Homo sapiens: one gene and its partners. The protein of the gene in region 2 interacts with the protein of the main gene of each other region in a pairwise test. Each region holds a gene or a part of one and is shown on either strand. Other genes may lie near its edges. The genes, in order: MTURN, RNF41, N4BP3 and HOMER2.

Region 1 (8,282 bases), on a different chromosome or scaffold from region 2:
AAGGAAGGGGAGGTGGTGTCTGTACCCTGGAGAGCACGGCCAATCAACCATGGCTTTTGTGCATCGAGCAAGTGCCCTGTGGCTTCAGAGATCCTTGTATGTACCTTCCAGGGACTCCCCTTAGGCAGTCTCTCTTCTCCTTCACTATGTGTAGGTGTGGATAATGTGCTCAGCAATCTACCTCAAACGCAGATGATGATTCAACAGGTCTCAAGTGGGACCCAATTCTGCATCTCTAACACACTCCCAGGTGATGGGAATACTGTTAGTCCAAGAGCCAGGGGTGGTAGGACTCTAAAGCATTTGGGAAATGTGGCACCATATATCTTCATGATTATGATGCTGGCGGTATGGGGAAACCCCTGGTGGGGTCCTGGTCTGTCAGTCAGTCTTCTTGACCCTAAGGAAAAAAGGGTGGCAAGATGGATGCAGCACAATGGGCAGGAGGAGGCACTCTCTTACCTTTTGAGGCCATCATACTCTCTAAAAAAGAGAATGGTTTGAATGTTCATAACATGAATGAGAAAAAAAAAAAGGAAAAAAGAAAAAAAAGATAAACTGTCAATATTCCATGTTTATTATGAAACCCACATGTGTGCATAATCTTTTCTCATCAGACTTTCCCTGATCCACCCAGGCAGCTTCTGACAGGTGGATTCTTTCTCTTTTCCAGGCTCTTGACCAGACTCCATGAGTAGAGGCAAGAATTGGACTTTTTCTGGGACACAGGATTTTCCTGTGGGATTTAAGCCGCAGCTCTCCAGCCACTTGTGGCAAACTGAAAATATCAATCTTGCTTATGCCAGTGAACCAGAATTAGGGGGATTTTTCTGGCAGAAATGTCTCTTTCTTGAGAGAAGAAACGCAGAGTCACACAGCAAGCCCAGGAGAGGACTTGGGCCAACTGAGTGAGAATCTACAAGGACCACAGGACCCAACTCCAGGCCGGGCCATGGAAGCAACAACAACCAAACAGCACAAAAAACTGCAAGAGCAATAGGGGACTCAGGACCCTAATGTCCACAGCGTTGGTAAGGAGAAGAACACACTCGAGGAAGCAATAGTTCCTTGTTAAGCCCATAACACTTTGAGAGAATTCGAAAGGGCAAAGATAAAGTCTAGTTTCACTGCTAAATTGGAAATAGTAGGCTATTTCTTCTCTTGTAAACTGTTTTCTACCCAGCAGTAAGTCTGTCAGTTGACACTAAATATAAAACATGAAAAGATGGTGGGGAAAACTGAACGGCATGATCACCATTATTTAGGTCCGTAACCATTGTTTCATTCTCCAGCTCAATCGTGTATGACCAGCAACTGTCAATGGAGGGTCACTTAAGAAAAATGCAAGGTTCTGACGATTATCCAACTCACACTTACCAAAGTGATTGATGGGGGTTTCTGAAACCACTACAAGTAGCAGTACCTGCTCGTGGATGCCAACAACAGCCTGCCTGGCATTGTCATGTGCATACATGTGCCATTTGGATACGACATGCCAGTAGCAAGAAAAAATAGGTAAAAATCATACCTCTCTGAGCAATCAACATTAGCAAGTAGGAGGTCACTGGAGTGGAGTAGAATGTGGGTCACTCGAGGGAAGGTGGCCGGCTGCATCCACAGTCATTTACCCATCCAATAAACATTTCCTAATACCTGTTAGGAGCCAGAAACTGAGACTAAATTTAGCAGAGTGTCTGGGTTTTGACAATCCTTTGGGTTCTCAGTCTGACTTCAAAGTTCCCCATGAATCCACAAGACAGCTAAATCAGTATTGCCCCCATTTTAAAGCTGGGGACACTGAGGCCAAGTGTACCTGTTAGAGGCCACACAGCATGGGAGCAAAACAGGGCAGAGCCGATCTACCTTCCACCACATGGAGCCATTTCTAAGGAAACGGAGCTGAGGCAGCCAAGATGGACGCTTCCTGGACTTCCTCCTGGGCCAGCCCTGCCCCTGCTCTGAGCACGTCTAGGTCCGGCTATTCTTCAGTCCCACCTCCTCATGAAGCCACTGCCTGGCTTTGTTCCTCAATGAGCCTGCTCACACTGATACTCCTAGCCCTTCGAATACGCTGGAAGCCACAGTTTCATTAAAAAATATATTTTCTGATAATGTGATCATAGAAAACTTAGAAAATGTGGAAAAGAAGAAAATAAAAAATCATCCATAACCCTGAGCGCTTTGGCCACGTGCCCCTCTGGGAGGACAGGTGCATCCACTGGTCCTCTATGGAGTCCTAGCCTCTAGCACAGTGAGTCGTGTGGATCAGGTACTCAGTGAATGCTTGTAATTTTACCAAAACCAATGTTGATAAACTTTTGACTTACCCTTCTAATGCCTTTTCATGTTGAAATCACTTAGCAAATTGTTTTCTCTCTCCACCAATAATCTAAGGTTCCCCCCAACGGTAACCTGCTCACTTCTCCACAGTATTTTGTCTAGTATCCTCATCCTATCCACATCATACTAACATTGACTTAGTGCCTACCGTGGATAACGCACTGCACTGAGTACCCAACAAAAACTCCATTAATCTTCACTGCAACCCTAAGGGAACTATCATCATTAATTTTCTAATTTTACAAATGAACTGAGAAACAGAGAGGTTAAGTAACTTGTCTAAGGTCACACAGCCAGCAAGTGGTAGAACTGAGACTTAAATCCGGGTAGCCTGACAACAGACCTTGGGTTCTTCATGACTGTAGTACCTGTTCCCTCATAATTGGGTTAAGAGATGACAAGCAACCCCCTGCAGAACATGCTCACAGAAATAGCTCTCCCAAGAACCAGTAGAGTGCAGTAGGCAGAGCAGGGGACTGCTCTAAGATGAAGGTAAAAACACTCCTCCTGGGGCTGGCCCACGATAAACAAAAAAGCAGCTGCATGGATTGATCAGATTCCCATGTATTTTCAGGGAAATGATGTGCTGGTTTTACCCACTTGATAACCTGTAGCATTTGGGTAAGCGTTTCAACAAATACGTTCAACTGTGATGACAGCAACAAAACCCCTACCTATGTCTTATCTGTAACAAACCTCCCTTACGTAAAACAAACAGATAAATGGTGCCATTGGGAAGCAGTGCTCTATTTGGTGGAGGTGGAGAGTGTCAAAGTTTCTCCAGGGATCTCTGTGGTCCTTTATTCGGGTTTGTGACGCTCCCTCTCATTCAGTCTGGGGCGCATCCTGACTGGGAGAAACTTGAGGCCTTCAGCACTTCATCTTTACCAGTCCGGGAAGGTGCCTCCCACCAGCCTTGCCCTCAGGGGTAAACCGGCCCTGCCAGAGGGCGGCCCAGCCCACAAACCTCCTCACCAAAGGGCATGCTGTGCCACGTCAAGGCCTCCTCACCTGGGGAGCCACATCCCTGCCCACAAGGTAAAGTTCCACTTCAGAAAGGAAACCTGGAAGCCCAGCAACAGCACACCAAAGCTGTGGGCCCACGTGACACATCTCAGCGCCACCTGAAAGAACTTCCTCAACCAATCCAACTGCTTTCAGCTGCACATCCGGATTTCTTTTGGACCGCATTTGTTTCCTCATTTAACGTGGCTAGCCTGGTTGCCAAAATACAACCAGAGCCTCGGTAAGGAAAAACAGCACAGTGACTCCCGGCTGGAGCTCCCCTTCCCAGGTGAGCCAGTTCTGCAGGGAGGGGAGGCTGCCTGCCACCACAGACGACACCCACAGAGACCAGCTGGCGGCAGGTCAATGAGTGAGCCCCTGTGAGGAAACCTGCTGCAAAGCGAACCTCAGTTGCTAACGGGTATTCTTCTGGTTAAAATTTACAGGAATCCATTTCTTTTTAATTTTGCCTAATGTGATCTCCCTTCTTCGATGTCTAACAGGCATTTAAAACACTGACATGTCCAAAACTGAGCTCTGACATTACCAACCCCAAACTCCCCACCACCCGCCCCCGCAGCCTTCCCCATCTCAGTAAATGACTAGGCCATTCCCTTCACTGCTTGGGCAAGAAACTCAGGGTCAGCCTTCTCTCCCTTTTTCCCACATCCCACTTCTGATCCACCAGCAAGTCCAGCTGGGTCTACTCTCAAGGTATCTCCAGAATCCAACCCCTCACCCCGCCTCTGCCGTGACCGTCCCAGTCCAGGCCACCACTATCTCTCACCTGGATGACAGCAATGGCCTCAATGGCCTCTCTGTCCCTCCCCTAACACAGCCTGTTCTCAACACAGTCATCAGAGGGAGGCTTTCAAGATGTGAAGTCAGGTGACATCCCTCTTCTGCCTAACCCCTTGGGGGGCTCCCCATCACTCCAGAGTAAGAGCCCATGTCCTTCTGTGACTCCTGGAATTCCTCCAGCTCACCTCTCTCTAATTCCTTCAGCCACACTGGCCGCTCCTGCTCCCTGGACACAGGTGTTGTCCAACCCCGAGGCCTTCATACCTGCTGCTCTCTCTACTGAAAATGCTATTCCCCTAGATTTTCTCATGGCCCACTCTGTAGTCTAAGTTTTTCCTCAAATGTTACCTTCTCAGCAAAGCCTTCCCTGGTTCCCTACTCAAAAATTCCAGGACCCCTGACACTTTTTACCCCATTCCCTGATTTCTTTCCTTTCTCTTTGGCACTTAATTACTAGCATCATTTCACGACATTACGTGTGTCCTTGTCTATCCTGTCTCCCCCCACTGGAGCACAGGCTCTGTGAGATCTAAGCTTCTCATGCTTTAGTTCCAGTGCCAGGAACAATGCAGTACACAGTGCCATGTACCCAGTGGGTACCCAAAACATATTTATTGAATGAATGAATGTGGGACAGACTGGTACTTTTAAGTCAAGTATCTATTTTGAATGTGCCAAACTGGCTTAGAAAATTAACAAACAAAAAAGGGATTTCAGTGGTTTTTGTCACTCTATTTGATTTCTGTCATTTGCTTAAGCAAATCAGAGTGACAAAAGCCACTGAAATCTCATTTCTTACAATGGTGCACAAAGTGACTGGGTCCAACTCTTTCATTGAGAATGACTAAAAAAAGCTGAATTAAATATGAAAAATACCTTCTTAAATATAAAATATTAACCAGGAGAGGGTAAGCCAAACATAAAAAGCTGCTTTTATCCTGGGGGCATTTGCTGACCTGGAAGCAGCAGCTAGAAACTTCACTGCTTTCTCAGGCTACTCTAACAGTTTTCCAAAGGAGCAGACTATACACCATCCCCACTTGAAGCTGGGCCCCCAGAGGCCCACACCCTCAGAACGAGGAGGAGGCACAGGAGGCCAGACCCGCATCCTGCCTTCTCACCCCCGGGAGCCATCAGAGAACCACAAGACTTAAACTGTGCTAAGGTGTCTCAGACTAATAGGCCCCCAAGTCCTGACGGAAGCAAACAGAAATCCTCTCTGGAGTAAGGTACTGTCATCTCAGGCCTCACTTTATTCCTACATGTAAACTTTCAAATACAATAACTAGCACACAAAGATAATCCCACACACAGAGAAACAAGATACCAGGTTTGAGAACTAGCAGAAACAAAAGAAGACCAAACAGACTTACAAAATGAAATATCATCAGACATAGTCTACTATGCAACCAAGCTTACTATGTTCAAAGAAACAGAAGACAAGCTTGAAAAACGCAGCAGAGAAGGAGACAGCATTAGAACAGATTTGAAAAATAAATAGAAATTCTAGCAAATACCACTGAACATGTGCAGTATTTACAGTGGGCAGGGAATCGAACTTAGGGGAAACACTGAGACACTGGTGATGGGACTTTATCTTCCAATGAAGATAAAGGGAAGTAGGTAATCTTCAAAATAGAAGTGAGCATTCATTTTAAAGGTTTATCAGCTAGAATGAAAACAGACTGTCAGCTAGCCACAGAAATACACATTCCTAAATCCCAAAAGGGGAAAACAAAGCAACAGTAGCTCATAACAGAGACTTTTTAAAAATAGAAAAGAATAGAGCCAGTATCCAGTTTCATCCTTTTCCATACCCACAAACGTGGAGGTATTAATATAACCTGTATACAGCTTCCCAGCAATCCCCAAATATACGCCCCACTATTATAAAAGAACCTCCATTGGGCTTGCAAGTGCCATGGTTCCAAGTCTCCTAGAGGAGAACAGGAACACTCAGTTGTCTCATAAAGGATCTGTTTGCTTCCCCCCCCATCAGGGATTCTCAACTCAAGTGATGCTAGAAATAACCATCATCCCTGCAGCAAACAGCTGTGTCACATCCCGTCCCCCTCCTCCCGCCCTCGGCCTCCCTATACTGGCTGCTATCTCTAAGCCACAGGACAGACAAGAGAAAAACAATTAGTCATCCCAGGTTTTGCCCACCTTCCCCACCGCCCCTGTTATTCTAAACACAATCACCATAGAAAACAAGCTGTGGTGAGAAGCCAAGCAGGCACCTACAGGTCTGAAAGACTTGAAGACTTTTTCCAGGACTTCGTGGAGCGTCTTCTTGCCGCAGGAGGAGATGTAATCCTGTGCTAGCTGCAAGAAAGGCAGGCAGTCCTCGCTCTCACTCCACACGTGCTGCGTGCCCACGGGCGACGGAAGGAGAAAACAAAGACACACAGTCACTACACTCAGTGTGAAGTTCAGAAAAGCCAAGCAGATTTTCTTAATAACATCAATTTGAAGAAGGCCTCCATTCTACAGTAAAATTCATACATGCGTTCTTGATTTGTTTGCGTTGAAAGGGAAGAAAAAATGTCTAATCTATAGAAGCCCCCGAGCTTTTGGTCCATACCTCACCTGCTCTGTTCATCATCAGATCTGCTCCTACACAGTAAAGAGGGCAGTGGGTGGCCATTCCTCACCAATGATTTCCACTGTTCACCTTGTGCAGGCTAAGGGCGGTTTTCAGACATGGGGAAGGAGAAACCAGAGCCTTTGCCTTCAAAATCCTTAACTTTGCTTTCAGCTACGGCTGAAAGATTAATTAAGCATAGTTTGTAAGCATTAACTTGGAACAAGACATTCTTTACCCAGATCGGCCTGTGAGTAGGCGTGGTGGTAAATTTACTTCCAAATGCAAATAACTTAAGAGAACCCACCAAGTCACCACTATGTCACTGGAAAACAAAGGCTTTCTGAAAACTTCCCTTCCCTAAAATGCTTTAAAAGGACATCATACCGAAGCATCATTTCACAATCTAACACATACTAAGAGGAGATCGGTTTTAGATTTTTTGTTTCTTTTTCTTTTTCTTTTTCAGACAGGGTTTTGCTCTGTTGCCCAGGCTGGAGTGCAGTGGCATGATCTTAACTCACTGCAACCTCTTCCTGCCAGATTCAAGTGACCCTCCCATCTTGGCCACCCAAGTAGGTGGAACTACAGGTGCGCACCACCACACCTGACTAATTCTTTGTATTTTTGGTAGAGACAGGGTTTCGCCATGTTGCCCAGGCTGGTCTCGATCCACCTGCCTCAGCCTCCCAAATTGCTGGGACTACAGGCGTGAGCCACCATGCCCAGTCTAGGTTTTATTTTTTCTGAAGACTGGGTAAGGCTTTTTTCCATGTGAGGATATCCATTTTAGCACATCTTTAAGACTAGGCAAGCCTCTCTCATAAATGTTCAAAGACCTGGAACAAGGCCAAGAAATAGGTTTGAGCATTCTTAATGCAGAATACCCTGCCCTGCATATCTAAGCAAGTCAGGGACACGGGGCTTCCAGGGTAACATCAGAGTATCTGTCAGGTACCAAGAATCACTCTTTAGTGGGGACGGATCCAGGATGGCTAAACACTGGCAAAAAAAAAAAAAAAAAAAAAAAAGTATTGAGGTCTGGGAGAAAGAAAGACATCTGGCAGATAAGAACAAGATGCAGCGGCCAGATAGCAGGATAGAAGACTTATGTGGAGACATGGTCCATGCCAAGCACACACTGGCCCCATATCCCTATCACTCAATAAACACATTTCCTCTCCTTTCTTCTCATTGCAGGGTTTCTGAGAACTAGACCTACAGACTTAAAATACTGCTCAGATCCAAATGAGAATAACTAGGTGCCAATGTACCATCTTTATACCCCAATTATCTGTGTTTCATAGTTGCAAAGGTCCATTTTCGACACACGTTGCTCTCATGCCAGCAGACTTCTCTAGAGGCTTCCCCAACCCAATAAAGACAACGTCTGGGCTCTCTAGCTTTAGCGAACAGCTCAAATGCTCTTCCCTACTAATTAGAGACCCTTAAAGCTGTCAAACCACCACAATGTCATTTATGTAATAGTCTCTTCCATTGTACAAAAGTGTAATGGTACAAAGTACTTGTATATCCATTATGCCAGTTGATT
Region 2 (8,282 bases):
CCAGGCTGGTCTCAAACTCTTGGACTCAGGTGATCCACTCACTTCGGCCTCCCAAAGTGCTGGGATTACGGGTGTGAGCCACTGCGTCCAGCCTCCTTTCGTATTTATTATTTCATTTGATTTGCAGACAGTATGTATAAGGGGTGCGCGCGTGTATATACACATATATACACACACACACATATATACACCTTATATTACGCCGGGCGCAGTGGCTCACGCCTGTAATCCCAGCACTTTGGGAGGCCAAAGGTGGTGGATCATATGAGGCCAGTTTGAGACCAGCCTGGCCAACATGTTGAAACCCTGTCTCTACTAAAATATAAAAATTGGCTGGGCGCGGTGGCTCACGCCTGTAATCCCAGCACTTTGGGAGGCCGAGGCAGGCAGATCACGAGGTCAGGAGATCAAGATCATCCTGGCTAACGTGGTGAAACCCTGTCTCTACTAAAAATAAAAAAAAAAAATTAGCTGGGCGTCCTGGCGGGCGCCTGTAGTCCCAGCTACTTGGGAGGCTGGGGCAGGAGAATGGTGTGAACCTGGGAGGCGGAACTTGTAGTGAGCCGAGATCGCATCACTGCACTCCAGCCTGGGTGACAGAGCCAGACTCCGTCTCAAAAAAAAAATAAATAAATAAATAAATAAAATAAAAATTAGCCTGGCATGGTGACACATGCCTGTGATCCCAGCTACTCAGGAGGCTGAGGCAGGAGAATTGTTTGAACCTGGGAAGTGGAGGTTGGAGTGAGCTGAGGAGATTGCATCACTGCACTCCATCCTGAGCGACAGAGGAAGACTCCATCTCAAAAAAAAAAAGAAAAATAGGCCAAGCATGGTGGCTCACGCCTATAATCCCAGCACTTTGGGAGGCCGAGGCGGGCGGATCACAAGGTCAGGAGATTGAGACCATCCTGGCCAACATGGTGAAACCCCGTCTCTACTAAAAATACAAAAATTAGCTCAGCATGGTGGCACATGCCTGTAGTCCCAGCTACTTGGGAGGATGAGGCAGGAGAATCGCTTGAACCCGGGAGGCAGAGGTTGCAGTGAGCCAAGATCGTGCCACTGTACTCCAGCCTGGCGACAGAGCAACACTTTGTCTCAAAAAAAAAATAACATATATATATATAATAAATATGTATATATTATATATACCTTATATTAATATATAAGGCAGGTATCATTTTCCCTACTTGACAGTTGAAGCAACAGAAAAACTACAGCAGGGTTACTTGACTTGTTTAAATGTGTAGATTTGGGGGTGGGCGCAGTGGCTGGTGCCTGTAATCCCAGCACTTCGGGAGGCTGAGGTGGGAGGATTGCTGGAGCCTGCCCAGGAGTTCAAGACCAGCCTGGGCAACATGGCAAAACCCCATCTCTACCAAAAATACAAAAATTAGCCAGGCATGGTGGTGTGTGCCTGTGGTCCCAGCTATTTGGGAGACTGAGGTGGGAGGATTGCTGGAGCCTGCTGGGAAGGCGAGGCTGTAGTGAGCTATGATCATGCCACTGTACTCCAGCCTGGGCAATAGAGCAAGACCCTATCTCAAAAAAATAATAATAATTTATGTGGGCCAGGCGCGGTGGCTCACACTTGTAATCCCAGCATTTTGGGAGGCTGAGGCGGGTGGATCACCTGAGGTCAGGAGTTCGAGACCAGCCTGGCCAACATGGTGAAACCCCGTCTCTACTAAAAATACAAAAATTAGCCGGGCATGGTGGTGGGTGCCTGTAATCCTAGCTACTCTGGAGGCTGAGGTAGGAGAATCACTTGAACTCGGGAGGCCAAGGCTTCAGTGAGCCAAGATCGCGCCATTGCACTCTAGCCTAGGTGACAGAGCGAGACTCTATCTCGAAATAATAATAATAATTTATGTGAAAGCACTTTGGAAACATTAAAGCAGCATCCCCAGCCTTTTTGTGGAAGATAGTTTTTCCACAGATGGTGGGCGAGGGGATGGTTTTGTGATGGAACTCTACCACCTCAGATCATCAGGCATTAGATTCTCATAGGGAGTGGGCAACCTAGATCCCTCGCATGGGCAGTTCACAATAGGGTTCATGCTCCAATGAGAATCAAATGCCGCTGCTGATCTGACAGGACATGGAGCACAGGCCTTAATGCTCGCTTGTTTCCTGCTCACCTCCTGCTGTACGACCCGGTTCCTGATAGGCCACAGTCTGGTACTGGTCCATCTGGGGATTTGGGGACCTCTGCATTAAAGCATCATCCTGTACACATAATGTATTATGGATCTATGCATTTTGCTTTTTTTTTGAGTCAGAGTCTTGCTCTGTCGCCTAGGCTGGAGTGCAGTGGCGCGATCTTGGCTCACTGCAACCTCCGCCTCCTGGGTTCAAGCAATTCTCCCTGCCTCAGCCTCCTGAGTAGCTGGGATTACAGGCATCTGCCACCATACCCGGCTAATTTTTATATTTTTAGTAGAGATGGGGTTTCGCCATGTTGGCCAGGCTCATCTCCGACTCCTGACCTCAGGTGATCCACCCGCCTCGGCCTCCCAAAGTGCTGGGATCACAGGCGTGAGCCATCGCAACCTGGATCTATGCATTTTGTAGTCACAGATTTGGAATCATTATTACTGGTAGTTATGTGCACTGAATAAAAGAATCTTAAATCTCCAACAACTCCTCTACTTTTCCTCTTGTCTTTTTTTTTTTTTTTTTTAAGACGGAGTCTTGCTGTGTCGCCCAGGCTGGAGTGCGGTGGCGCGGTCTCGGCTCACTGCAAGCTGCAGCTCCTAGGTTCACGCCATTCTCCTGCCTCAGCCTCCCGAGTAGCTGGGACTACAGGCGCCTGCCACCTCGCCCAGCTAATTTTTTGTATTTTTAGTAGAGACGGGGTTTCACCGTGTTAGCCAGGACGGTCTTGATCTCCTGACCTCGTGATCCACCCGCCTTGGCCTCCCTAAGAGCTGGGATTACAGGCGTGAGCCACCACGCCCGGCCTCTCTTGTCCTTTTCTTTCCCCCTCCCAGCTATGTTCAAATCTACTGGACCCCGTGTGTGTGCTTCCTTAGCTGGTGAGCTCCCTCCTTAGAAGGTAGTCTTATTTGCCTAGCACTGAAAACTGTAGTGCTTAATGGAGTTGTCTCATCCTCCCCAACCAACTGCCAGATCCATCTGTCCAGTCTCCTTGCCAAGTGGAGGTAGTTCTCCTGACTCTCCTTTCTCTTCCTTGTTCCTATTACTAGAGTACTCCTGATTGTGACATCACATTCATCCCCTGGGCGATGGAGCTTGTCACTGGGAAGGAATACTCAGTCGGAGAATAGCCAACAAGATGGGTTACTGGGAGAATCTCTTCAGTGGCACTGAGTGGAGGCATCAGGGGGTTGGAGCCTTGTGAACAGGGAACCTGCCCCCCAACACTTGGAAGGTAAAGAGCTTTGATTCAGAATCCCATTCCAGGCCTCAACCCTCTTCTCTGTCGCTCGGGATTCCTTCTGCCCTTGAAAGTCCAGTTCTTAAAACTTCTTTCTGCAGAAAGCTTTCTGTGATTAATCTGTACCATTTGTTCTTTTTTGTATATTTACAACTTACATAAATTATTGACTTTTACTTGTTAATAATTTGCTTAATACGTTTATGTGTTTTTATGTGTTTTTTTTCCTATGTACTCATTGGGCTCAAGCCTACACCTTAGTTTGAGGACAAGGATTATGTGTTTCTTCTTTTTTTTTTTTGAGACAGAGTCTTGCTCTGTCGCCTAGGCTGGAGTGCAGTGGCATGATCTCAGCTCACTGCAACCTTCACCTCCTGGGTTCAAGCAGTTCTCCTGCCTCACCCTCCCAAGTAGCTAGGATTACAGGTGCCCACCACCATGCCCAGCTAATTTTTGTATTTTTAGTAGAGATGGGGTTTCACCATGTTGGCCAGGCTGGTCTTGAACTCCTGACCTCAGGTGATCCACCCACCTCGGCCTCCCAAAGTGCTAGGATTACAGGCGTGAGCCACTGCGCCCAGCCAGTTGTTTACTGACCTCTTCTTTGGGTTTGACCTTTGGGAGCCCAAAGAAGGGGCATGGCGCCATTGCCGCTGTTTGAGTCCTTGCTCTTTTGGACCTCTCTTTTTTTTTTTTTTTTTTTTTGAGACAGAGTCGTGCTCTGTCACTGGGCTAGAATACAGTGGTGCAATCTCGGCTCACTGCAACCTCCGCCTCCTGGGTTCAAGCGATTCTCCTGCCTCAGCCTCCCGAGTAGCTGGGACTACAGGTGCGCACCACCACGCCTGGCTAATTTTTGTATTTTTAGTAGAGACGGGGTTTCGCCATGTTGGCCAGGATGGTGTTGATCTCTTGACCTCATGATCCGTCTGCCTCAGCCTCCCAAAGTGCTGGGATTACAGGCATGAGCCACCATGCCCGGCCCTCTCTTCTCTTCTTTATCCCCATCACCACCACCACCTAAGTTCAGACTCTTACCGTCACTCTCCTGACTTAGATGTTCTTCCGGTCTCCAGTTTCTCCCCTGTTAACATACTGATTCTAAAATGGAACTATTATCACATTGTTTTTTAAGTCCTTCAGTGGCTCTCTCATACCCTTCAGAATAAAGTCCAAAATCCTCACAGACTTTTCACAGCATGGCCCTTGCTTGCCTCTCCAGCCTTGTCTCTTGACAGGCCCTCCCTCCCACCTCTCAGGTCAGCCTTTTCTTGAATCACTTGAAATTCTCTGAACCTATCATATGCCCTCTTCTGGGCATTTGGATGTGCTATTTTATGTGCATAACACCCTAATGCCCTGCTCCCCCAACATTTAGCTGACTCTTGCCCTACAGGACACGTTTCTGGTGACGCCCAGTCCTGGAAAACTTGTCAAAACCACCCTCTGCTTTCAGCCTGGGTTAGGTATTCATGTCTCTTGTCCTCATAAGGTCCTGTCTCTACTCTGAGTATTTATCACTTTATATTTTAAATGTGTGCTTATATAATGTCTTCCCCCATTAGAATTACATTTCTTTTTTTCTTTTTTTTTTAAGGCAGAGTCTTACTCTGTTGCCTAGGCTAGAGAGCTGTGGTGCAATCTCGGCTCACTGCAGCCTCTGCCTCCTGGGTTCAAGTGATTCTTGTGCCTCAGCCTTCCAAGTAGCTGGGATTACAGATGTGCATCACCACGCCCAGCTAATTTTTGTATTTTTAGTAGAGCTGGGTTTTCATCATGTTGGCCAGGCTGGTCTTGAACTCCTGACCTCAGCTCATCTGCCTGTCCCGGCCTCCCAAAGTGCTGGGATTACAGGCGTGAGCCACTGTGCCAGGCCTTAGAATTAATTTTTTTTTTTTTTTTAGAGACTGAGGCTCGCTGTGTTCCCCAGGCTGGAGTGCAGTGGCGCGATCTCGGCTCACTGCAACCTCTGCCTCCTGGGTTCAAATGCTTCTCCTGCCTCAGCCTCCCGAGTAGCTGGGATTACAGATGCGCATACCACACCCAGCTAATTTTTGTATTTTTAGTAGAGACAGGGTTTCACCATGTTGGCCAGGCTGGTCTTGAACTCCTGACCTCAGGTGATCCGCCTGCCTCGGCCTCCCAAAGTGTTGGGATTACAGGCGTGATCCACTGCACCTGGCCAGAATTAAATTTCTTGAGTCAGCTTCCACCGAGCCAAATGACTGCTGCATAGTAGACTCCCAGTAAATATTTGTTGGATAAATGAATGGATCTTGGCAATGAGTGTATGTTTGTCACATATTTGTAGGCTTCTTCTGAACTGGCCTCTTTTTCCTGTTGTCCTTTCAGGACCTGGGTTTCAGTGATGAGACATGGGGTATGATGTAACCCGTTTCCAGGGGGATGTTGACGAAGATCTTATCTGCCCTATTTGCAGTGGAGTCTTGGAGGAGCCAGTACAGGTGAGTTGGTCTGATGGCAGGTTTGGTGGGGCAACAGGTAGCAGTGGAACTAGTAGAAAATATTCATGGGCAGCGGGACCCATGGTGAAGTCACTGTGTTCTTCTCTCCACCCTCACCCAATAGAGATTTAGGTCAAAGGAGTAATGGTGACTACAAGAATAAGGCCTTCCAGAATCAATCTAGAGGTGGATGCCACAGAGATCCAGTGGTTCAGATTTTTTTCTGAGGTCACTCTGAAAGATTTCTCCTGTAAAACAGTCAGCTGCTTGTTTCTGTCTTGTGATAGTAGCTGGGTAGCTTCCTTTCCTCTACAGGAACTCTTACTAGGTTCCATCTTCCTGTCCGTGATTGAACTTCTGGACTCTCCTAATAAGTTCTCTCTGCATTTTTATGATGTAGTGCTTCAGGTAATCAGCCAGGCTCCCTGCAGGCCTCTTCTACCTGCCTACTGTCTAACAAATAGGAAGGCTGGGCACAGTGGCTCACACCTGTAATCCCAGCACTTTGGGAGGCCAAGGTGGGTGGATCACGAGTTCAAGAGCCATCCTGGCCAACATGGTGAAACCCCGTCTCTACTAAAAATACAAAAATTAGCTGGGCGTGGTGGCACACACCTGTAGTCCCAGCTACTCAGGAGGCTAGACAGGAGAATTGCTTGAACCCGGGAGTAGGAGGTTGCAGTGAGCCGAGATTGTGCCACTGCACTCCAGCCTGGGTGACAGAGTGAGACTCCATCTCAAAAAAAAAAAAACAAAAACAAATAGGAAGTGGGGAACTGTATGTACTGACCTATTTTTTTCCTGGGATCTACTGAAAAGACCAGCTTTTGATACAGCCATGCACTCTGCATTTTGATGTGAAAGCTGCCACCTTCAATAGGTCATTTCTCTGCCAGCCTTGCCAGACCAGAGTCAGTTGTATCATCCTGGGGCAAGTATGAGGAGAAGCTCACGATTACCAGGCAAGTACAATGAGTGAGGTGAATCCTTAAGAGTTGTATTCATGGGACAGCATCCTCCAGGATCCTTATTGCCCTCATTCTGTAAATACCAATTAATCCTTTCTCTTTCCTGGCTATCTAGAGATTATCACATTTTCCAAACCAGGACACTAGGCAATGAGGTTTCATGGCCCTTCCCCCATTCACTGCTCACCTAACTCCCAGGGGCTCCCCTTGAGCCTTTATTTTTTCTCCCAGTACTACTCCAAAAGGAGTACTGATGCCTTGAGCTGAATAAAATTCAGACTGCATTCCAATGGCAACCAACTCTGGACCTGTCTTCTTTCTAGGCCTTTGCAGTCTGCTGCCATTAGAGGCATATTAGATGGGTGTGGAGCAAGTCATCAAGTAGTAGTGTCAAGAGGTCACAGGGTGTGTCAGGTTCCCTCCTCACCCTGGCAGGGCCTTGTCTGTTTTCTGGCACTATCATTTTAGGCAAGTCACTTATGGAAAGGTGAGTCGTAGTTGGTGACAGTCTAGTCAGAAGCCACCCATCTACCTCCAGGCTTTATCTTCTGAGGAGCAGAGCAGGCAACCCTCATGATGCCAGGTTCCCAGACACATTTCTAAGGTTAGAAGGCTCCTGCTAGGGATGCTGATTTCCCCACATCATAATTATTTATTTTTTGAATAGGTGAAAAATGAACATAGTTCAGAAATCAAAAGGTATACAGTGAGAATTCTCACTTCTGTCTTTATTACTGTGCACCTAATTCCCCCACAGATAACTATTTTTATTAGTTTATTTGGTATCCTTCCAGTGTGTCTTAAGGCAGATATAAGCAAATATGAATAGATGTCTGCATATATATGTATTTGTGTATACATATGTATATATGAATATATCTGTGTTTCACCATGTTGGCCAGTCTGGTCTTGAACTGATCTCAAGTGATCTGCCTGCCTTGGCCTCCCAAAGTGCTGGGATTACAGGCATGAGCCACCATGCCCGGCCTTATTTAGCTTTGTTTTGTTTTGTTTTTTTGAGATGGAGTCTCACACTTTAGCCTAGGCTGGAGTGCAGTGGCATGATCTTGGCTCACTGCAAGCTCTGCCTCCCAGGTTCACGCCATTCTTCTGCCTCAGCCTCCTAAATAGCTGAGACTACAGGCACCCGCCACCACGCCCGGCTAATTTTTTGTATTTTTAGTAGAGACAGGGTTTCGCTATGTTAGCCAGGATGGTCTCAATCTCCTGACCTCATTATCCGCCCACCTCAGCCTCCCAAAGTGCTGGGATTACAGGCGCCATCCACCATGCCTGGCCTAGCTTTCTTACATTGAATTTTTGCCAGTAAATATGTCCTCCTCCTCTCTAAATCTATCATCTGAATTATCCTTCAAGACCCATATCAAATTCTGTCCTCTTCATAAATACCTGCCGTGATTGAGCTAGCCTGAAAAGACCTCACCC
Region 3 (4,332 bases), on a different chromosome or scaffold from region 2:
CTGGGGCCTGAGGTTTCTGGGAGGAGGTGGCAGCAGACGCTAGGAGGTTGAGGGGAGGAAATGCATGGCAAACAAAGGCTGTCTTGTCATGCAGATAAAACCTCTCAAGCAGCCCAGTCCTCAGAAGAGATGGTATCACCTTCAGTATCCTTTCCTGTGAGTTAATTGTCCATGTTTTATGAGATGCTAGGGAAAGGGCTCAAGACAATGGCATTCCTTCTGCAGGAACTTCCCTTAGAAACAAAAGAGAACATCAGAGAAGGCCCCTCCCTGCGCTTCAGGAGGGTTTTGGGAGGGAAAAGGAGTGAGCGATGGTCAGATACTTTAGTTCAAAGCATTCAGCCTCCCACAGCTTCATACTTTGGGGTATCATTTTCTGAGCCCCACCACCAATTTCCTAGGATAGGATTTTTAAAATTTAACTCAATAAATGCAGGGGTGGGCCAAGCGCCGTGGCCCACGCCCATAATCCGAGCACTTTGGGAGGCTGAGGCGGGTGGATCACGAGGTTAGGAGATCGAGACCATCCTGGCTAACATGGTGAAATCCTGTCTGTACTAAAAATACAAAAAATTAGCCAGGCGTCGTGGCAGGCGCCTGTAGTCTCAGCTACTCAGGAGGCTGAGGCAGAAGAACTGCTTGAACTCGGGAGGCGGAGGTTGCAGTGAGCTGAGGTCACGCCACTGCACTCCTGGGCAACACAGTGAGACTCCATCTCAAAAAAATAAATAAAATAAAATAATAAAATAAATGCAGGGGTGGCACATAGTATGACTTTTTTCCCAAATTTTTATCCAGTTATCCCAGCACCGCTTGTTAAAGCATCCTTCCTTACCCTTATTTTGAAGTCCTTTATTGTGTAAGATTTTCTACAGAATAGAATCTATTTCTGGCTCTTCATTCTTTCCATGAGGTGTAGATTATTTTTACACCAATGTCGTATTTTTCTTGCTACTTTGTAATATGTTCTAATATTACATATTAGAGCAAAGGAATTAAATACCGCTCACAAAAAAGGAAAGAGAAAAAACCCCATACGGTTATTGTGAAAGCAGATCAGTGGTTGCCAGGGGCTGGGGTGGGGCGGGGGGTGGACTAGAGGGCCACAGGAGAATGCTGGGGGGGTGACAGAACTGTATCTTCATTGTTGGGTTCGTTACATAACTCTGCATTTGCCAAAACTCTAAGTAAGCCCAAAGCAAAATGAAACCATGAGACCCACCTCCTGGACGGATGAGTGAGCCAGCTGGGAACTCCCATGGCCCTCCAGCCTCTCCTCTCGTGACATAATCACTTTTGTTTTTGTTGCAAGAAGCATCATTCTTTTTCTTTTCTGAATCCAATATGGATGCCTAAGCCCCCACCTGCCAAGGGGGATGGGTTATCAATATCTGAACCGTCACTGCAGGGCCTGCGCCCTCTTTGCAGAAACCTCAACACTTACATTCCGTGAGTCTCAGAGAAATGTACCCAGCCCCACAGATAGGCTTCCTCTGCCTGCTCCATGCTCTGCTGACCCATGCCACCATGGAGGCCCCTCTGTTGTCCCTAGTTCTGTCTGAACACTTCTGGATTCTCTTCTGTTCTCTTTTCCGCCTGCCTGGCCCCAGTCACTATTTGGAGCGGCCTTCACTACCTCTGACATGTGTGGTCTCCCTCCCCCACCCACAGGTAAGCCCTATCAGGGCAGGGGACCGAGGGCCTTGGCCACCTTGGCTTCCTCACCTGAGAAGGCCCCAAATACATCACTGGAACGAATGGCAGCTGCCCCTGGAGTCCCTGTGCTTGGCACAGACCTGGTGCCCACGGATGGTGAACGAACATTCAGAGTAAGTCTTCCCCATCCACCCCACCCCAAGCTCAAACCCATTCTAGTATTGGGGGGTCTCTGGTTGCTCCTGACTCCACATCCCACCAGTGCCTTCTGGAGCTGTGGTGAAGACACCACCCTACCCCGGCAATGCCCACAGCTCAAAGGAGACAGGCAAACCAACAATTACAGCAGCACAGAAAGAGCTGACGGAGATTGGCATGGGGGCTGTGGGCGCAGGGAGGAGGGAGTGCCCAGGCAGGGGAGGCGGTGAGTTCAGGGCAGGTTTCTCAGAGCACTGAGGGGCTCTGCCTGCAGGATGAGGGCTCAGAGGGCTACAAGGGCTTGCCAAGGTAAGGAGGAGGCACCACTATCAGTGACTCGAGGCCACTAGTGTGTCAGAAGCCTGAAGGGATGGACCAAGAGGCCCAGGGAGCTGCTGGAAGGGATGACACTGAGTGAAGGACTGGAGGCCCCAGAGGCAGGGAGCCCAGCACCAGGAGGCTGCCACCTTCCGCAGAGCAGGCTGCCCGGACCAAGCCTGTTGGGGAGGGGCTGCAGGGAAGGCTAAGCCAGGGCAGCTGGGAAGCTGAGGCCCCGCCAGCTGGAGGGAGGGGCTGCCCTGAGGTGGTAGCCACTACGGTGACACCTGTGATCAGTGACACCTGTGGTCGGTTGGCCCCAGAGCCACCCAGCCGGCTGGGGGACCCAGGAACTGGTTTGTCCAGCCTGGATGAGCTGACGGGGATCCAGCTCCGAGACGCCCCAGGCTCAGGTTCAGCTCTCGTGCCCTCCCCCTACATCTGGGCCTGGCTTTGGTTTCTGGCACAGCTGCCAAGTTTTGGTGCCTCCCACCCACTCCCCACTGGCTGTACTGGCCAGCCCAGCTCCCTAATCGCTGGGTGGGGAACTGTTCTGCCGAGCTGGTATACCAAGGTGGACCCTGGCACCAGGTGTGTGGGCCCCTGGCTTGACAGGCCCCTGGCCATGGAGGCTGTGATCAAGGCATCTGGCCAGCACCTGGCTCTGAGGGGCCCTCTGGAGGAGCCATTGTCCCAGAGATTTCCGTTTGGGGTTTGGGGTTTGGAGGAGTTTGTGAAATGGGAATGGGTACCAAGGGGGTGTGTAGACGACTGGCCTGCCTGACCTGGCCACTCCCCCTTTCCCTCCTCAGGCAGACAGGAGCTCAGGTGTGGGCCTGTATGGGTCTCAGATAGGCCTAGGGGATCTGTCTGGGACACAGGCTCCACCCAAGCCTGGCCAGTGCCAAGACAGACTGGGGCTGACAGGAAGGAATGGGGTAGAGGGTGGGGCCAAGAAGGGGCCTGCACTGTCTCCAACCCAGACACTGGCTTTTGGAGGCCAGGCTCCCAAACACACCCCCTCAGACACACCCACCACCCACAAGCACATCTTTACACACACCTGCCACTTACATGGCCATAAACACACCATCCCCACAGCAGACAGTGCACACGCCTCATTCTCTGCCCTGAAAAAGGGGGCCCCCCCAGCTCATGCCTCACACCCGTCCCCTGACATCCATGTGCACTAACTCCACTTCACAACCAGGACCCACCTGTGGGGCCTGAGGGGCTGCCAGGCACGGCCAGGGTAGCCAAAGGGAGTGAGGTGGGGCTCTCTGCAGATAACTTCTCAGAAGTTCCCTGAGCTGCCCTGTCAGGGAAGAGACTGGTGAGCTGACATCAGTGTGCAGGGCCCCCTGCGGCAGGAGCTCATCTAATTCAGCCTGTGCCCCCACACTCACAAGGGCCCAGCACAGCACCTGGCGCCCAGTAAGCACGCAATGCATGGCAGCCCGTCCAACGATGAGCGCGTAAGAAAGCTGAGCTTCCCTCAAAGGAAGGGAGAGACGCCACTCACACAGCCAGACAGAACCTGTGTTCCAGGCCGGGCACCCAGCGGGGGAGCAAAGGCCCAGAGGGCAAGCCAGGCCTCTGAGAGACCAAAGGCAGGTGTGGGTTTTAGGGACCAGCCTTAGCTGAGAGCAGGGATCCGGGAGGACTGACCGTCCTGGAGCCCAGCGCAGGACAGAGGCAAGGTGGGGTGGGGAATGCTTCCTCCTGGGAGAGCTTTCCAGAATGCAAATCAATCATATTTCACCCCTACTTAATAATGCCCTAGAGCCCCGTTGCTGATGGGGAAATGTTCCCATTCCTTGCTGTGGTAAAGGCTCTTTACCAAGAAACCCATAAGCTTGCCCACCTCCTCTCCTGCACCTTCCTACGAACAGGGAATGAGGCAGAGCACTTCTAGGGGCCCCCCACTCCTATGGAGGGAGGGAGGGAGACAGGAGGTGGGTGCGGGGAGGGGCATGGCCTGAGCCTGTGGATACTCCTGGGGCCCAGCCTTCCCACCAAGAAGACATTTCATGTTCTCAAAATGCCTTGGTTGACTTGCCCTTTGTTTTTTTGGCATTCCCTGGTGTTGTTCCTTCTGAAAACTCCACTGGTGCTAAAGAAAGGAATTTCAGCCCACACGGCAGCTAAGGAACCGTGTGG
Region 4 (8,715 bases), on a different chromosome or scaffold from region 2:
AGGCATCCAGGACACATAGACTTAGGAGAGCCCTGGATGGGAGAGGCAGAGGACAGATGGGACTGTTGGAAATCGTTTATAGCTCACCTTCCTAAGGGCAGGCCCTTGGCCTGATTGGAAACAGCAGGGGCTAGGGCTGGTGGTCCCATACTGATCTGGTGTCATCTTAAAGAGACAGCCCATAGTCTTCTCTGATCCTTAGGTGCCCTGTAGAGGGGTCCTGAATCTATGGAGGGCTCTGGATACAGATTGGCAAAGTGTTATCTGGCAGGAAGTACACAAGCTGTTTCCATGGTGGGGGCAGATTGAGAATCCTCAAACTGTACTAAATTTTAAAATGTTGATTATATAAGAACCATTTTGACAATATTAATTCAGTCACAATAAATGAAAATTTCACCCTAGTTCCACCATTATAGCCAGTAATAATAATAATAATACCTGTAATGTATTGAAGATGTACTATACTAGGGACTGAGCTAAGCACTTTACAGATATGATCTCATTCACTCTGTTTTTTTTTTTTTTTGAGACGGAGTCTCACTTCTGTTGCCCGTGCTAGAGTGCAGTGACACAGTATCTTGGCTCACTGCAACCTCTGCCTCCTGGGTTCAAGTGATTCTCCTGCCTCAGCCTCCCGAGTAGCTGGGATTACAGGCATGTGCCACCATGCCCAGCTAATTTTTATATTTTCAGTAGAGACAGGGTTTCACCATGTTGGTCAGGCTGGTCTTGAACTCCTGACCTCAGGTGATCTACCCGGCTCAGCCTCCCAAAGTGCTAGGATTACAGGTGTGTGCCACCACACCTGTTCTCATTCACTCTTCTTAATAGTCCAAAGAGATATCGCCACTTCGTAGATTAGAGCGCTGAGGCTCAGAGAAGTTAAAAACTTGCCCGTGGTCACAGATAGTCAATGGTAGATCCAGGACTTAATGCAGGTCTGAGTCTAATACTGATGCCTTTACCCTATATTCCTTCTGCCATCCTAATAAACTTTTTCATTTTCTATACTCCAGGCCTTGTCCATATTTTCTAATTTTACATAATTATACTCATAGCACAGCTGTAATTCAGATTATTTTACAAACTTAACTTTATATCCTAATACACATCCCATCCACCAAGTCTTATTGAGTCTACCTCTAAAATATCTATAATCTGTAATCCACTTCCCTTCATCTCCACCCTTATCTTTTGTCTAGAGCCTCTTAACCAGTCTCCATGTTTTACTCTTGTCCCCTTCTTATCCCCTCTTCTCCCAGGAGTGAGTGATATTTTAACAATATAAACCAGATCACGGCATTCCCCAACCCATCAGTGGGTTCTCACTGCATTTGAATAAATTGCAAATCCTTAATCCAGCCAAAGGGCCCTGCATACTTCACCCATGCTTTGCTAAGCTCACTGCACTCTAACCACACTGGCCTTCTCCCAGCTCTTCAGAACAGCATGATTCTCTACCACCTCAGGGCCGTTGCAGTTTCCTCTGCTTGGAACCCTCCCCTCATGCTCCCCATGACTGATGCTTCTTTGTCTTCAAGCCTCTTCTTTTTTTTTTTTTTTTTTGAGATGGAGTCTCAATCTGTCACCCAGGCTGGAGTGCAGTGATGCAATCTCAGCTCACTGCAACCTCTGCCTCCTGAGTTCAAGTGATTCTCCTGCCTCAGCCTCCTAATTAGCTGGGATTACAGGCATGTACCACCATGCCTGGCTAGGTTTTGTATTTTTAGTAAAGATGGGGTTTTGCCATGTTGGCCAGGCTGGTCTTGAACTCCTGGCCTCAAGTGATCTGCCTGCCTTGGCCTCCCAAAGTGCTGGGACTACAGTCATGAGCCACCACACCCAGCCATCAGGCCTCTTTTTAAATGTCTCTTCAACAGGCCATTCCTGACCATCCTCCTCAACCTAAATTAGGTCTCCTATTCACACAGATCGTAGCTTATATATTTGTGTGATTATTTGATTAATACCATTCACACAATCTTATAGTCCTATGACAGAAGGACGTCTGTTTTGCTGAGCACTTTATGCCCAACACAGTACCAGATACACAGCAGGTGATCAACATTTATTGAAAGAATAAATATATTTCTATGTTACTATATAGGCTTCACAAATATAATGTAATAGCTGCATAATACCCGACAGTTATCCCTTTAATTAATGGCTTTAATAATACATTTGTTTCATATGCAGTTGAAAGAACTGACCTTTTATGGTTAGAAAAAAAAATGTTTGAAGTCCCTGGACCAGCCATACCAGAAATCTGAGCACACTAATAACAACATTATGCATGTACATGGTGAGCCTAATTTTGCTGTTGAAAGTAAAAATACAGGCCGGGCATGGTGGCTCACGCCTATAATCCCAGCACTTTGGGAGGCCGAGGCAGGCGGATCACAAGGTCTGGAGATCGAGACCATCCTAGCTAACATGGTGAAACCCCATCTCTACTAAAACTACAAAAAAGTAGCCAGGTGTGGTGGCATGCGCTTGTAGCCCCAGCTACTCGGGAGGCTGAGGCAGGAGAATTGCATGAACCCAGGAGGCAGAAGTTGCAGTGAGCCAAGATTGCGCCACTGCACTCCAGCCTGGGCAACAGAGTGAGACTCCGTCTCAAAAAAAAAAAAAAAAGAAAAAGAAAAAGAAAGTAAAAATACGTAGATTATAGGTTTTGAAATCAATTTAGTAGGTTATGAGCAGTACTGCTTTTAAAAATAGAACAGAATGGGCCGGGCACGGTGGCACACGCCTGTAATCCCAGCACTTTGGGAGGCTGAGGTGGGCCGATCACGAGGTCAAGAGATGGAGACCATCCTGGCCAACATGGTGAAATCCTGTCTCTACTAAAAATACAAAAATTAGCTGGGGTGGTGGTGCGCGCCTGTAGTCCCAGCTACTTGGGAGGCTGAGGCAGGAGAATCGCTTGAACCTGGGAGGCGGAGGTTGTGGTGCCCTGAGATCATGCCACTGCACTCCAGCCTGGTGACAGAGCAACACTCTGTCTCAACAACAACAACAACAAAACAGAATGATGTCTGAATGCCTGCCTGGCAAGTGAGAGGATAAACATTGTTTTATATAACTTTTTGTTTCTATTTTATATCGATATACCTATAGACATAGTATGTATGTGCTGAAGTATGTACCAGGTTGCAGGTTGTAGTGTAAAATATATTTCTTACTGTGGATTGTAGTTTAAAAAAATGAAAAACTCGGCCAGGCACGGTGGCTCATGCCTGTAGTCCCAGCCCTTTGGGAGGCCGAGGCGGGTGGATCACGAGGTCAGGAGATCGAAACATGGTGAAACCCTGTCTCTACTAAAAATACAAAAAAAAAAAAAAACTGGGCGTGGTGGCATGCGCCTGCAGTCGCAGCTACTGGGGAGGCTGAGGCAGTAGAATCGCTTGAATCTGGGAGGTGGGGGTTGCAGTGAGCCGAGATCACGCCACTGCCACTGCACTCTAGCCTGGGTGAGCAGAGTGAGACTCCGTCTCAAAAAAAAAATAATAAAAATAAAATAAAAATGAAAAACTCTGATTTCAGTGGCTTGCCTTTGAAGTTATTCGAACACTTCAGAATCCTCAGGTATTACCTGATAAATGACTTGTTCAGTGTTCTACAAGCTCACTTTCCTGATATTGCTGATTACTATGCATGGAGGATTTGGAAACTCCCAAGATTATTTTATTTTTTACAAACTTATTTTGTATTTATTTATTTATTTTTTTGAGACAGTCTGGCTCTTTTCACCAGGCTAGAGTGCAGTGGCATGATCTCGGCTCGCTGCAACCCCTGCCTCCTGGGTTCAAGCGATTCTCCTGCATCAAGCCTCCCGAGTAGCTGGGAGTAGCTGGGACTACAGGAGCACGCCACCACACCCGGCTATTTATGTATTTAATTAATTAATTTATTTATTTTTTGAGACGGAGTCTCGCTCTGTTGCCCAGGCTGGAGTGCAGTGGTGCGATCTCGGCTCACTACAAGATCCGCCTTCCAGGTTCACGCGATTCTTGTGCGTCAGCCTCCGGAGTAGCTGGGACTACAGGCGCCTGTCTCCACGCCCGGCTAATTTTTTTTGTGTGTGTGTATTTTTAGTAGAGACGGGGTTTCACCGTGTTAGCCAGGATGGCCTCGATCTCCAGACCTCGTGATTCGCCCGCCTCGGCCTCCCAAAGTGCTGGGATTACAGGCGTGAGCCACCGCGCCCGACCTGTCCCTTGACTTTTTTACTGTCCTGAGATGCCAGGCTTATGTGGGCGGTGTGTTCCCAGCAGAAGATGATCCCGTGGAAGTCCCGGGGGATGAAGGTTAGGTTAGTCCCAGTGCCAGCCTTTGGTAGAAACTCAGGACCTGATAGGTAGAAAGGCGACGAAGAGAGCCTGCTCTTCTTCAAGTTCTACTTTTGCCATCCTAATTCCCCTCGCTCTAAGGATAAAACCAAGCTTGATGAAGCCGCCTTAAAACTGCCCCTTCAAGTGGGAGCCCTCATCTCATTTTTATCCAGGAAAGAGCCCAGAGCATCTGCCGCGGCCTGTAGGCTCTTCTCTGCCAGGCTGGCTTCCGAAATTTCACGGTGGCGGGTACCTTAAGGCCACTCGGCCGGGCAACTGGCAGGAAGATGAAGGTGGGCTTTAAGGAGGAGCACAGCTATGCCCATCTCAGACTCTGGAGACCCGAACGAACTCTAATCTGAATGTGTGACCTTGGGCAAATCACTTACCCTCCCCAGGCCTCGGTTCCCTTATCTGCAAAGTAAAGGTAGCCCTAAAGTCCCCGCCAGGTGTGAATGGGACTTTAAGTCCATCAGGCAGGATGTTGATGGCACTGCGCCAGGGCCCCGGGTCGGCGTGGGGCGGGGGCGCGCCAACGCGGGGCCGGCACCGAGGACTGGGTGGCCCGGGAGAAAAGCGGCGACTGCGCGGCTGCGCGGGGGACGGTGCACACAGTGCTGCGCCCCCCGCCTCTTGGCTCGCTGCCGCGGCCCGGGGGCCACGAGGTTACGTAAGGAGCCGGGCGGGGGTAGCGGCTGGGGAGGGCGGGGCGGGCACCGCCCCAGCGCGGCCGCCCAGCCCCCGCCCGCCCGCGCCTGGCGGCGGTGGCGGCAGTGGCAGCAGTGGCAGCCGCGCAGCCCCGCGGAATGGAGCGGCGCCGGGGCTGAGCCGGGCGCGCACGGGCCGCCGCATGTGCCGCGCGGGGAGCGGCTGCCGAGCGGGCGGAGAGCGAGCGCGAGAGGCCCCGTCGGAGCGGCCGCCGGAGCAGCGCCGGAGATGGGGTGAGTGAGCCCGCGCCGCGCGCTCTCCGCGCGCCCCTCCGGAGGGACTGCGGGGCCGCGGCTGGCGTAACCGGGCTCGGAGCCTCCCGGCGGGCCGGCCCCCGCCTCCCCAAGCCGGAGCGAGCGCACACTCTGCGCCCGGGAGTCTGGGGCCACCTGACCCGCGCCCTCCGCCGGGGCACGCGGACACCCAGCAGGGGCACCCTGGCCTGGGCGCGGAGCCCGTGGCCCTTCCCCTCCCATACAGCCCGGGCACGGGGGCACCTGACGGGGACCGGTGCCCTGGCCGGCCTCCTGCCTCGGCCATTCCGCGGTCTCTTCGCCCCTGGGCGCAGTCAACTCCAGGGCCTGTGTGAGTCTAAGCAGTTTGTCGTTCTCCACGTTTGGATTTATTACAAGCAAAATGGAAATCGAAGTTTTCCTGGAAATAATCAAATAATAATAAACCTCCAGCGTAGGAATAGTGGACTTTGGATCTGCTTTGAGATGCTGAAGATGATGGAAGTCTATAAGGAACCTAGGTGAGGCTTCAGTCTTTGAAACAACTGAGTAGATGCTCAGGAGGGAAGTTGAAATACTCTGTCGAAGTGACTAATGCTTCTGAGTATATAAAGTAATTTAAGCTTTCCCCTCGGCGTCTCTCTGAGCAGTAGGCTCTGTGAGTCTGGGAGCCACTGTGCTAATAGCACAATAACTCCTTACATCTGCTCACTCTATTTGGGCACACGTTGACGGTTTGCCATACGTATTCAGGGGACACTTATGTCCACTTTACAGATGAGGAAACTGAGGCACAAAGTGGTTCGGTGACTTCCCCCAGGCTGTGTAGTTGATGAGCATTTGTGTAGCAGGGGTGGCCTTGCCACTGCCTGACGTGGGCATGGAGGCGGGTAAGTGAACCAGAATTCCTAAATCTCTCTGTTCCCTGCTGCTGAACCCAGCATTCTTCCAACAGCCCTTCGCAGGACTCAAATGCTTCTGCTCCAAGGGTCTAGAGATCTTGCTTTCCTGTTTGGGATGGGTGGGGCCTGGGAAGGCAAGAGTGCAGTGGAAGGAGCAAGATTGTCCTGGTGCCCTGGCTCAGCCCCCCTGGGTCAGTGGCTTTCTTGCACCGTACTCCAGGTTAAGTTTCTGGAGTCATTTTGCCTGGTGAGTCTTAGCCATGGGAGCTGCAGAGTGTGTGAGGGGATCAGAGGCAGGCCAAGAGGAATTTTGAGGAATGGAAGTGTGAGGGCTGTGGGCCAACATGAACTGGACATGACAGAGGTGGGTGACAGAGAGGAGGAGGCGAGATGAGCAGCGAGGGCTGAAGAAGTGTGCTTACATTTAGGAGATTTCACATGAACAGCAACTGTGGGTGATTTTACCCAGAGGCACCCAAGTTGGCAGGCCGTATTTCTGTAACATTTCCAGTGAGTCCTCAGTGGACTGTGAAAAGGCTGATCTTTGAGCAGTGAGAGCCTTTGAGGTTCTCAGATTTCATACTTTAAAAAAATGTACAGGGAAAAAGGAGTTGGCAAATGTAAGGTCTCAGAATGGAAGATAAAAGGGATCCGGTAATTTTAACTCTCTTTCTGGCCCTCCCTCCCCCTGGCCAACACAAAACCAATCCACCGTACTTGTGTGATCAAAAACAAGTACTGAAACTCTGTGGTTGAGATCAAATAGTTCTGTGGAAATGAAAATGTTTACTCACTCATAAAACCTTAAAGAAAATGTCAAAAAATAATTTTTGTTTGTGGAGAAGCAGGGAGGAGACGCTTGGGGATTTTGTTTAAACACAGAATATGTCTTTCATGTAATTTTAACATCATTCGATAAATGTATATATTACTCACTTCTCGTAGATAAAGGCTGGTTTGTAACTCCTACCTACCTCTGCCATTTTTAATAGATCCATGTCTTCTATTATTTATGTGAAAATACAAGCCATGGTCGTAAATTGAGATGCAGCTAAGGGCTGGGGAAGCAATTCAGACAGGAGGGTGGAGGGAGCCGTTTTAACTGAAAATAGAACCAATGTCATCCTTTCTGAGAGTTGTGTAGGATGGAGGGGGAAGAACTTTTTGAAAGGGCAGCTAGTAGAAAACCTTGCTGCGATCCTACAGCTTCGTCATGGCTCTGCTGTGTAGACAGGACTAGGATTTAAGGGAAAAAAAAACAAACTATCTGAGTTTACCTCCCCCCAACTTGAGATGCTTCTCCTCCCTCAAATGTTCACTACCATTTTCCACTTCTCTTCTGCGAAGTGTTCTGTGTTAAGTGTGGCCTCTCCAGTGAGTTTGTGTTCTTACTCCCTAAGGCAACTATTTCATACCTATTCCCCTTTCCAGACCTCTCCCCTTCCTAGGCACACCCCGTGGCTTCCCTTTCAATTGACAAGATAGGCACCTTTGACCAAGGGAATGTCTTCATTTTGCCACCACCTAGTCTAGTATGCAGCTGCTGCTACCTTCTCCTACCTGCCTGCTGTGCTGGATGACCTGTCCCTCATCTCTTCCTACTAGGGGCCCCTTCTTCTGGGGTAGCCTCCATTCCATCCCTTCCTCCTCCCATCTTTTCAGAGATTGTCTCTCCTTCCTAACCACCTTTCTCTCCGGGGTCTTCTCCATCAGTATAGGAGCATACATCTGACCAACAGAACTTTCTGCACTGCTGGAAATGTTCTGTATCTGCGTGGCAGCCACCAGCACATGTGGTTATTGGACACTTGAAATGTGGTTGTTGAGACTGAGGACCTGAATTTTTAACTTAATCTAAATTTAAATAGCCACATGTAGCTAGTGGCCACCATATTGGATAGCATAGCTTTAGTTGCTCTCATCTTAAAAAGGAGATCTCCCTCCCTCCTACATCCCTCTCCTGTTTCACTTCTTTGCTCTTCTTCACCTGAAAACACCTCAGAAGATACATCCAAACCCACTGGCTCCATTCACTTTCTCCTGCCATTTGTTCACTCTCCATACTCTACAGTCTTGCTTCTGCCTCACCTCTGCACCAAAACTGCCAGGGTCTTGGGTGACCAGGGGGTTGCCAGATCTCAGCCTCACCTCACTTCACCTCTCTCAGCAGCATTCCTAACAAATGACCACTCCCTCTCCTCAAAACAACACCCCTCTCAGCTCCTCTGGCCCCACTGTTTCCTGCTTTTCTTCTTACTCCTAATCATGGGGTTGCCCAGGGACTGGTCCTGGTTCCTTTTCTCTGTCCACACTGTCTTCCTAGGTAATACTGTCCCACCTGCAACTCCTCCCCACCCTCCCATGGCTTCAAATGCCATCGATATGCCCATGATGCCCACACTTTAATTTCTAGCTCAGATCTTTCTTGGAGCTTCTGACTCTCGTCAATACATGGAGCTCTTGATATGCCTTCCAGCTCTCACCTGCCTTCCGTCTTCCCCATCCAAGTCAGTGGCCCTACCATGCACTCATTTG

The links.
Region 1: the proteins of RNF41 (region 2) and MTURN interact in binary tests that used the Homo sapiens proteins (3 or more experiments, as listed by UniProt).
Region 3: the proteins of RNF41 (region 2) and N4BP3 interact in binary tests that used the Homo sapiens proteins (3 or more experiments, as listed by UniProt).
Region 4: the proteins of RNF41 (region 2) and HOMER2 interact in binary tests that used the Homo sapiens proteins (3 or more experiments, as listed by UniProt).

What each region holds. Positions count from the first base shown.
Region 1 is NC_000007.14:30,144,408-30,152,689, reverse strand, and holds part of MTURN (maturin), read right to left. Parts: intron 6,514-8,282; coding exon 6,391-6,513; intron 1-6,390. UniProt on the Homo sapiens protein: Promotes megakaryocyte differentiation by enhancing ERK and JNK signaling as well as up-regulating RUNX1 and FLI1 expression. Represses NF-kappa-B transcriptional activity by inhibiting phosphorylation of RELA at 'Ser-536'.
Region 2 is NC_000012.12:56,211,544-56,219,825, reverse strand, and holds part of RNF41 (E3 ubiquitin-protein ligase NRDP1), read left to right. Parts: intron 1-3,212; 5' UTR 3,213-3,397; intron 3,398-5,755; 5' UTR 5,756-5,778; coding exon 5,779-5,868; intron 5,869-6,687; exon of another isoform or gene 6,688-6,830; intron 6,831-8,282. UniProt on the Homo sapiens protein: Acts as E3 ubiquitin-protein ligase and regulates the degradation of target proteins. Polyubiquitinates MYD88. Negatively regulates MYD88-dependent production of pro-inflammatory cytokines.
Region 3 is NC_000005.10:178,122,587-178,126,918, reverse strand, and holds the end of N4BP3 (NEDD4-binding protein 3), read right to left. Parts: 3' UTR 838-4,332; downstream 1-837.
Region 4 is NC_000015.10:82,949,094-82,957,808, reverse strand, and holds the start of HOMER2 (homer protein homolog 2), read left to right. Parts: upstream 1-5,088; 5' UTR 5,089-5,273; coding exon 5,274-5,278; intron 5,279-5,286; exon of another isoform or gene 5,287-5,764; coding exon of another isoform or gene 5,765-5,799; intron 5,800-8,715. UniProt on the Homo sapiens protein: Postsynaptic density scaffolding protein. Binds and cross-links cytoplasmic regions of GRM1, GRM5, ITPR1, DNM3, RYR1, RYR2, SHANK1 and SHANK3.